Homo sapiens: one gene and its partner. The protein of the gene in region 1 binds, or shares a complex with, the protein of each later gene. Each region holds a gene or a part of one and is shown on either strand. Other genes may lie near its edges.

What was found. The genes of interacting proteins can lie anywhere in the genome.
Region 2: EIF3D (region 1) and EIF3M share a complex: the UniProt entries of both Homo sapiens proteins name them as parts of the eukaryotic translation initiation factor 3 (eIF-3) complex.

Annotation. Positions count from the first base shown.
Region 1 is NC_000022.11:36,515,563-36,519,314, forward strand, and holds part of EIF3D (eukaryotic translation initiation factor 3 subunit D), read right to left. Parts: intron 3,349-3,752; coding exon 3,201-3,348; intron 1,932-3,200; coding exon of another isoform or gene 1,870-1,931; coding exon 1,739-1,869; exon of another isoform or gene 1,738-1,738; intron 1,229-1,737; coding exon 1,143-1,228; intron 1,046-1,142; coding exon 916-1,045; intron 1-915. UniProt on the Homo sapiens protein: mRNA cap-binding component of the eukaryotic translation initiation factor 3 (eIF-3) complex, a complex required for several steps in the initiation of protein synthesis of a specialized repertoire of mRNAs.
Region 2 is NC_000011.10:32,593,689-32,597,440, forward strand, and holds part of EIF3M (eukaryotic translation initiation factor 3 subunit M), read left to right. Parts: intron 1-177; coding exon 178-261; intron 262-1,225; coding exon 1,226-1,325; intron 1,326-2,277; coding exon 2,278-2,359; intron 2,360-3,752. UniProt on the Homo sapiens protein: Component of the eukaryotic translation initiation factor 3 (eIF-3) complex, which is required for several steps in the initiation of protein synthesis.

The DNA of each region.
Region 1 (3,752 bases):
TAAATCGGTATTAAGTCATTAAGTTTCTGTTAATTTGTTATGGTGCGAAAGAAAACTAATACAAAGTTATATAATACAGAAGTATGTATGGCGAAGAGAGCTGTCCAGGTGACTCCACTGGGATCAAAAAGGAGGGGAGCCAGCAAAGACGACATGCAAACGGAACAGGGAAACGGGTGAGACCAGAGTAACGCGGTAACACAGACGGCAAAACGACACAGGCACGACGGCCCTGAATGCTTTGGGGAGCTCACCAGGAAAAATCCAAGAAAAGGCCGCTGGCCCCAGAGCGGCAAACCTTCCAGTGTGCTCTTTCAACAGGTGATGTGGGCGGGGGGGCGGATTGGGAGGGGTGGGGTGGAAATAGAGGAGGAAAAGTGAAGGAAGCATGTTTCTTTCAAGGTGCCTCTGAAGAGTCAATTCTGAGCCAGATCTTAGAATCCATGAGTTAAAGAAATGAGGAATTGCAAAAAATGTGTGAAAAGATTGAAGGCAGTGGCTCAGTCAATGAAAGAAGAGGTCAAAAAGAAGAGCGGCCAGACTTACAGGAAAACTGCCAACCCAGATAATAAGGAGAGGAAAAAATCAGATGCTCAGGGAGCAGAAGTCAACAGGAGGCCACAATGGAACAGAGATGAAGAAAGTACTGGAAGAAGGGAGTTAACTGGTTCCTGCGTAAAAAATAAGCAGAAAAGTTCTTAACACTTAACATAGTTCTACACACACAGTCATGCTCTTTCTCAGCAAGGAACTAAGCAGAGGAAAAAACTCACAAGACAAAAAAAAACATCCAGGTAGCTCTATAAGTAACGAAAGGGGATAAGAAACAGTTTATACAACCTAGCCTGCGTAAACAGGCACTGTAGGGAATAGAGACATGGTGTCACCAGGAGGGTGATGGAGATGGCGGCTCACCCTGGAATCCCACTCATTGAGTGTCTTGATGTTGATGAAGGACACTTCCCCGTTGGCTCCAGTCATGACGCCATCGTGCTCACAACGGACAATAAGGTCAATATCATCTCCAAGCTTCCACCTGCGGTAACTGCAGCAAAAAAGAAACTCATGTGGTCACTGGGGATTCTATAGAGTGGGGCCCGTGCTCCAGTCTGGCCACAATACCCACCAGAGAGGTGACCTACCGGTACGCAACAGAGGCGATTTCATTCTTATCCATGTCGTCCTCCACAAACGGGTTTGGGTTGGGGAAGTTGTATCTTTCCTTCCCCTGCAAAAACAAAGGTGTCACAAGACAGAGCTAACTTTGTTGACAAGGCCAAGGCCAATCAGTCAGACCCAGCACCTCTGCTTAGTTGCAGCCCTGGCCAGGTTCCTGGGGCCCTTGATGGGGCTCTGAGCTCGCTGCCTGTTTTGTGCCTACTTGACCCCTCCCAACTGTTAGCACCTGATGAATTAGAACAATGACTTAGTAACCATGCTCATCTCTACTTCATTTTTTTGCCATGGCATATATTCACCATTTGATGTAAATCAATTTATTATTTATTGTTCACTGTGTTTCCTCCTCCACTATCATTAAATTCTGTAAGGGCAGGAACTTTGTTCAAAGTCAGAGAGCCTAACATCCAAGCCCAGGCATGTAACTCCCCTGCTAAAGGTGGGGACTGCGTCTGACCTGCTCAGTCCCACAACCAAGAGCCTAGCACAAAGCAGATGCTCCACAAACAGCAGCTGATTAAATAAGAATGAATCAATGCCCAGAGACTCGTTTCCTCACCATTCTCAAGCACTGCTGGGAGAAATTGTGGTTGATGTAGGTTGCCTCCATGGCCAGGTTGCGGGGTGAATTGAAGGAATTACCTTCATCTTGAGGGGGCTCATTGGCAGTCTCACTCACTGTCAGGAGGTCTGCAAAAGCGTGGCATGGTCACTCACCATGCAACAAAGAGTCACTGACAATGTGCGCAGCGCTGTGGGGAGATGTGGAGAGGCAAACAACACAAGTCCTTCCTTCAAAGAACTGCCCTCTCCTAAAGTGGGTCTCCCTGGTGTGGAACACATAAGCGGGGGAGTGGGGCAGCTGCTCCAGGATAACTCAAGATACTGTCCAACATTCAATTCAATCACACAGTAACGAAGCTGTCCCTTTTCAGTCGTTTTGGATTCCTCAAGAGAATGATTTTGCAAGCTTTTTAATAAAGACCTCAGGCTTCAGGCTCAGAATATAAACACTTTTTTTTTTGAGATGGAGTCTTGCTCTGTCACCCAGGTTGGAGTGCAGTGGTGTGTCCACGGCTCACTGCAACCTCTGCCTCCTGGGTTCAAGCGATTCTCCTGCCTCAGCCTCCTAAGTAGCTGGGATTACATGTGTCCACCACCACACCTGGCTAATTTTTGTATTTTTAGTAGAGACTGGGTTTCACCATGTTGGCCAGGCTTGGTCTCGATCTCCTGATGTCAAGTGATTCTCCGCCTCGGCCTCCCAAAGTGGCAGGATTACAGGTTGTGAGCCACCGTGTCCAGCCTGTTTTGTTAATTTTTGAGTGACATGGTTTTCCTTTATGGTGTATAAATACATATATGTATGGTATAAAAAATATATATGTATATACAGTAAGCAAACACTGAACAAGGTATGCAAGATGGCAAAAGTCGAAAAAGGGGTATTTAAATGAATAACATTTGGGCCAGGTGTGTTGGCTCACACCTCTAATCGCAGCACTTTGGGAGGCCAAGGCTGATGGATCACTTGAGGCCAGGAGTTCGAGACCAGCCTCGCCAACATGGTGAAACCGTCTCTACTAAAAATATAGAAAGTAGCCAGGCGTAATGGCACATGCCTGTAATCCCAGCTATTCGGGAGGCTGAGGCAGAAGAATCACTTGAATGTGGGAGGCAGACGCTGCAGTGAGCCAAGACTGCGCCACTGCACTCCAGCCTGGGTGACAGAGTGAGACTCTCTGTCTCAATTAAAAAAAAAAAAAAACAACAAAAAAGCAACATTTGGAAGCTTGCTATTAGGGTGCTGTGAGGACTCCAAAAGCTGAGGCCTCAAGCAGGTACTGCAGTGACAGTCTCTTCTCCTAACCTCTAAAGAGTGTGGGAGATTCAGACACTGCTGCTGTCAATTCCCTTGGGAAGACAGACCACTTTCTATCCATTCTCTAGTACCAGAGACTTGTTCTGTACCAACAAAAATACTCAATGCCTTTGAGTTGCTCCCCAGGCACGCTTCTTACCAAAGTCAGAGTTGTCTCTCTTGTCAAAGAAGAGTTTGGACCCAACTCTCTGGACGACAATATCCCAGGAATACACTGAGCGGGTACAGCTCATCAGCGTGGCCAGGATGGCATCAGTGGCAAACACATTCCCCTGAGTTTTTGCCAGCTGCAAAGAGGATCAAAGAGAGAAGATGGAAAGACACTCCCAGGTCTCACTGCCCACTCACATGGATGGGAAAGAACTCCTTTGCTGACCACATAAATCCTTAATAAGGAGGCCCCACCTCATTGACCAAAAACACTGCAGCCAGTGAGCCAGCAAGTTTCGGGTGGCAGTGGCACTGCAGCACCCTAAGCACCTGCTAGATTCCAGCCAAGTGCTTCAGATGCTTTCACCTTTGCCCCAGTGGTAGTGCTATGTACATCTACCCCTTGTTGCAGATGAGAGAACTAAGGCTCCAGAGACTAAGCCAGGAAGCGCGGCAGAACTGGGCTTCAAGTCCAGCTGTGCTTAACATCCACATTTCCGGTCTACCTGGCAAAGTGCTTTTACCTATAATACATACGTTA
Region 2 (3,752 bases), on another chromosome or scaffold:
TAGTTGTCCATCTTTCCTACTAAAAGGAAGGTTTTATGACTTTTCCCATAGACAGGGACTTTGTCTCTCTTAGTCACCGTTATAATGTCATCAGCACAGTACCTGCCTCTTAAAAATATTTTAAATGAATGAATAGCAGTAATGCTTTCAAGTTCCTAAAGCAATATTTCTTTTTAGTGATGCTGCTTCAAAAGTCATGGTGGAATTGCTCGGAAGTTACACAGAGGACAATGCTTCCCAGGCTCGAGTTGATGCCCACAGGTAATGTTAAACGTTACTCTGATGAGGGTTTGACAGCGATGTAGAGGTAAGCTACAATATTAAATTAAGTAACTGAAATCATGTTTGCAACTACCAGTGATCCAGAGCCATTTGATAGTGTGTATTTCCTGGTGATTCTAATGTAGATACTAAAATTCAAGGTTTGATATTGGAAGAACTGTGGATTGAATATGAAGTAGCTGCATGGCGTTTACCTGGCGGGGGGGGTATTGCTGGTATGGGGATGATGATCCCAACCCAAGAATTAGAACCTAATCTTGGGCCAATTGACCCTAATTTTAAGGTTATAGGTGGAAAGTTGATGGCTTGCCAAAAATTAACCCATTGCTAATGAGTATAAGGGCTTTTAACAGTCTTAGATCTAACTGGTAACAAGAATAGAATCAGTTTTCTAAATCTATGTAATAAGGATTATGAAACTTCTTTTTTTGGTCATTGCTTTGTGTGGACCTCTACATGATAGGAGTTGGTAAAAAGGGAAGTTGGTGGTAAAGATCCTTGACTTTGAGGTCAGGCTGCCTCCATTCACATTCTTACTCCACCTCTTAATGAGCACTTCTGAACTGCTTCATAGTTGATAAAGGGGGCAGAGTAATACTGTTTGTCTCCTAGGTTGTTGTGAGGAATAAATGAGATGTAAGGCAAGTGAAGCACTTAGTGTCTTGGCATGTGGTTCTGCTGCTGCTTACTATTTGATTACCTTGGTGCTTTCTCTCCAGCTATGTTTTTATCTACAATTAATATATTTCATTTTGTTAAAACAGATGAACCTGATAAATGTGTTGGCCTGTCTTAACCCAATCCTGTAGCTTTTTTAATGTTGTTTATATGTTTTGGACTGTTAGATATTTTGCCGAATTAAGTATATTTTATGATCTGCAAAAACTCAATGAAAAGCCAGGATTTCAAAACCCTGAGCTTACATTTTTGTTCTCTAATTAAGGTGTATTGTACGAGCATTGAAAGATCCAAATGCATTTCTTTTTGACCACCTTCTTACTTTAAAACCAGTCAAGTTTTTGGAAGGCGAGCTTATTCATGATGTAAGTAGTTTATCCTTTAATGTGAAAAATGTTCTCCTTTCCTAAATTTTACATACTGAAGCAGGACTCTTTTTCTTTGCATTAATAAAAGTGACTAATGGCAAGATATGGAAAGATTAAGAACTATGTATTCTTTTTATATCAGGAACAGACATATTTAGGACCAGCTTTTCTTCATCCACTGAGCAGAGTCCTATTCTTCCTCCCTTTCTTAATTTCTTTTTTTTTTTTGAGACTGAGTCTCACTCTGTCACCAGGCTGGAGTGCGGTGGCATGATCTTGGCTCACTGCAACCTCTGCCTCCCTGATTTAAGCAATTCTCCTGCCTCAGCTTCCAGGAGAAGTAGCTGGGATTACAGGCACATGCCATCAGGCCCAGCTAATTTTTGTATTTTTAGTAGATACAGAGTTTTGCCATGTTGGTCTGGTCTCCGACTCCTGACCCCCCTGACCCCAAATGATCTGCCCACTTCGGCCTCCCAGAGTGCTGGGATTACAGGCGTGAGCCACTGTGCCCGGCTACCTCCCTTTCTTTCATCTTCTCACTTACTCATCATTATAGACTTAGATAATACAAGTTTCTTTTTTATTACATATATATTGTTCCTAGCCCCACTTAGGAATATAAGTCTGATATTTAAAAACACATGAACATTTTTCAAATGCAAGTATAAATATATTTTGGACTGTTGTGCATCTGGACTATGCCATTAGCCATCATCTTTCAGTGTGGATAATTTAGAGCTCAGTGTATTTACTGATTATTTCATTTTAAAAGTGAGCCATGTGAAAGCAGATGGTTTGGTAATTTGATGAAACAGAATGATATTTCTGCCTTGAACAAAATGTAGGAGTCAGTATCTTTAAAATAATATTTACAATATCTTAGAATATCTTACAATAAATCTGAATTCTGTATTGATGGTATCTTTTTTGTCTCTTATCTGTATAGCTTTTAACCATTTTTGTGAGTGCTAAATTGGCATCATATGTCAAGTTTTATCAGAATAATAAAGACTTCATTGATTCACTTGGTAAGTTTTGGGGTTTATTCTTTGAGGCACAGAGGTGGGAACATGATACACTAACAGTTATGTACTATGTGTTCCAGCAAGTATGGCTGTGGCCTTATTTGTAGATTATCCTAAAAGGAGTCGTGTATGATAGAACAGCACAAAAATAGGTAGACAGTTTAAAATATTACTTAGAATGAATTGAGAATCAGAAACCAAGAAGGTGTAGGAGGTGGCATTTGTGATAGAAAGAGAATGAAACTGGGAGTATGAAAACAACTCGGGGCCCAGCGCGGTGGCTTAGAGGTATAATCCCAGCACTTTGGAGGCCGAGGCGGGCGGATCACGAGGTCAGGAGGTCGAGACCATCTTGGCTGACTAACATGGTGAAACCCTGTCTCTACTAAAAATACAAAAAATTAGCCGGGCGCGGTGGCGGGTGCCCGTAGTCCCAGCTACTTGAGAGGCTGAGGCAGGAGAATAGCTTGAACCCGGGAGATGGAGGCGGAGGTTGCAGTGAGCCAAGACTGTGCCACTGCACTCCAGCCTCGGCAACAGAGCAAGAGTCTGTCTCAAAAAAAAAAAAAAAAAAAAGAAAGAAAAGAAAACAACTTAGCACTTGTAATCCCAGCACTTTGGGAGGATGAGGTGGGTGGATCACTTGAGGTCAGGAGTTCAAGACCAGCCTGGCCAACATGGCAAAACCCCATTTCTACTAAAAATACAAAAATTAGTGGGCATGGTGGCACATACCTGTAGTGCCAACTACTCAGGAGCCTTAGGCAAGAGAACCACTTGAACCCGGGAGGCAGAGGTTGCAGTGAGTTCAGATCACACTGCTGCACTCCAGCCTGGATGACAGAGTGAGGCTCCATCTCAAAAAACAAAAAAAAAAGAGAGAGAAAATGACTTGGAACCTTTTTGTCTCATTTAAGAGCTTGCTGAACTTTAGGCCCTTCCAGCTCTTCTGTACCATGATTCTTTGAGGTAAAGTTATATCAACAATCGGGTGTTTGGAGAAGATTGAAGAAATAGTTCCATTGGTACATTTGTTTTTAAAATTTAGAGATGGAGGAGTGAGCAGAAAAGCAACTGAAAGAATTACCATTACTTTGATCATAATGGTAACTTTCAGAAATGTTTTAAGAGCTGATAAAATTTGATGATTAAAGGTACTTTATTAAGCTAAACATTATTCTTAAAATAATATTGTTTCTTTGTAGAAGACTTTATTCCTTAGATATATGGTGATTTGTATTTTTGGTCCCTTTTTTTAAGCCATAGCCACAGAATGGTAACAAATAGTTTTTTCCCCCCTACTATACTATTTTATGCTTGGATACCCCCGCCATTAACAAATTACAAAAGTATATAGTATTGCCAGTTAGATCTGAAAGATGGAATTAGAAATGGA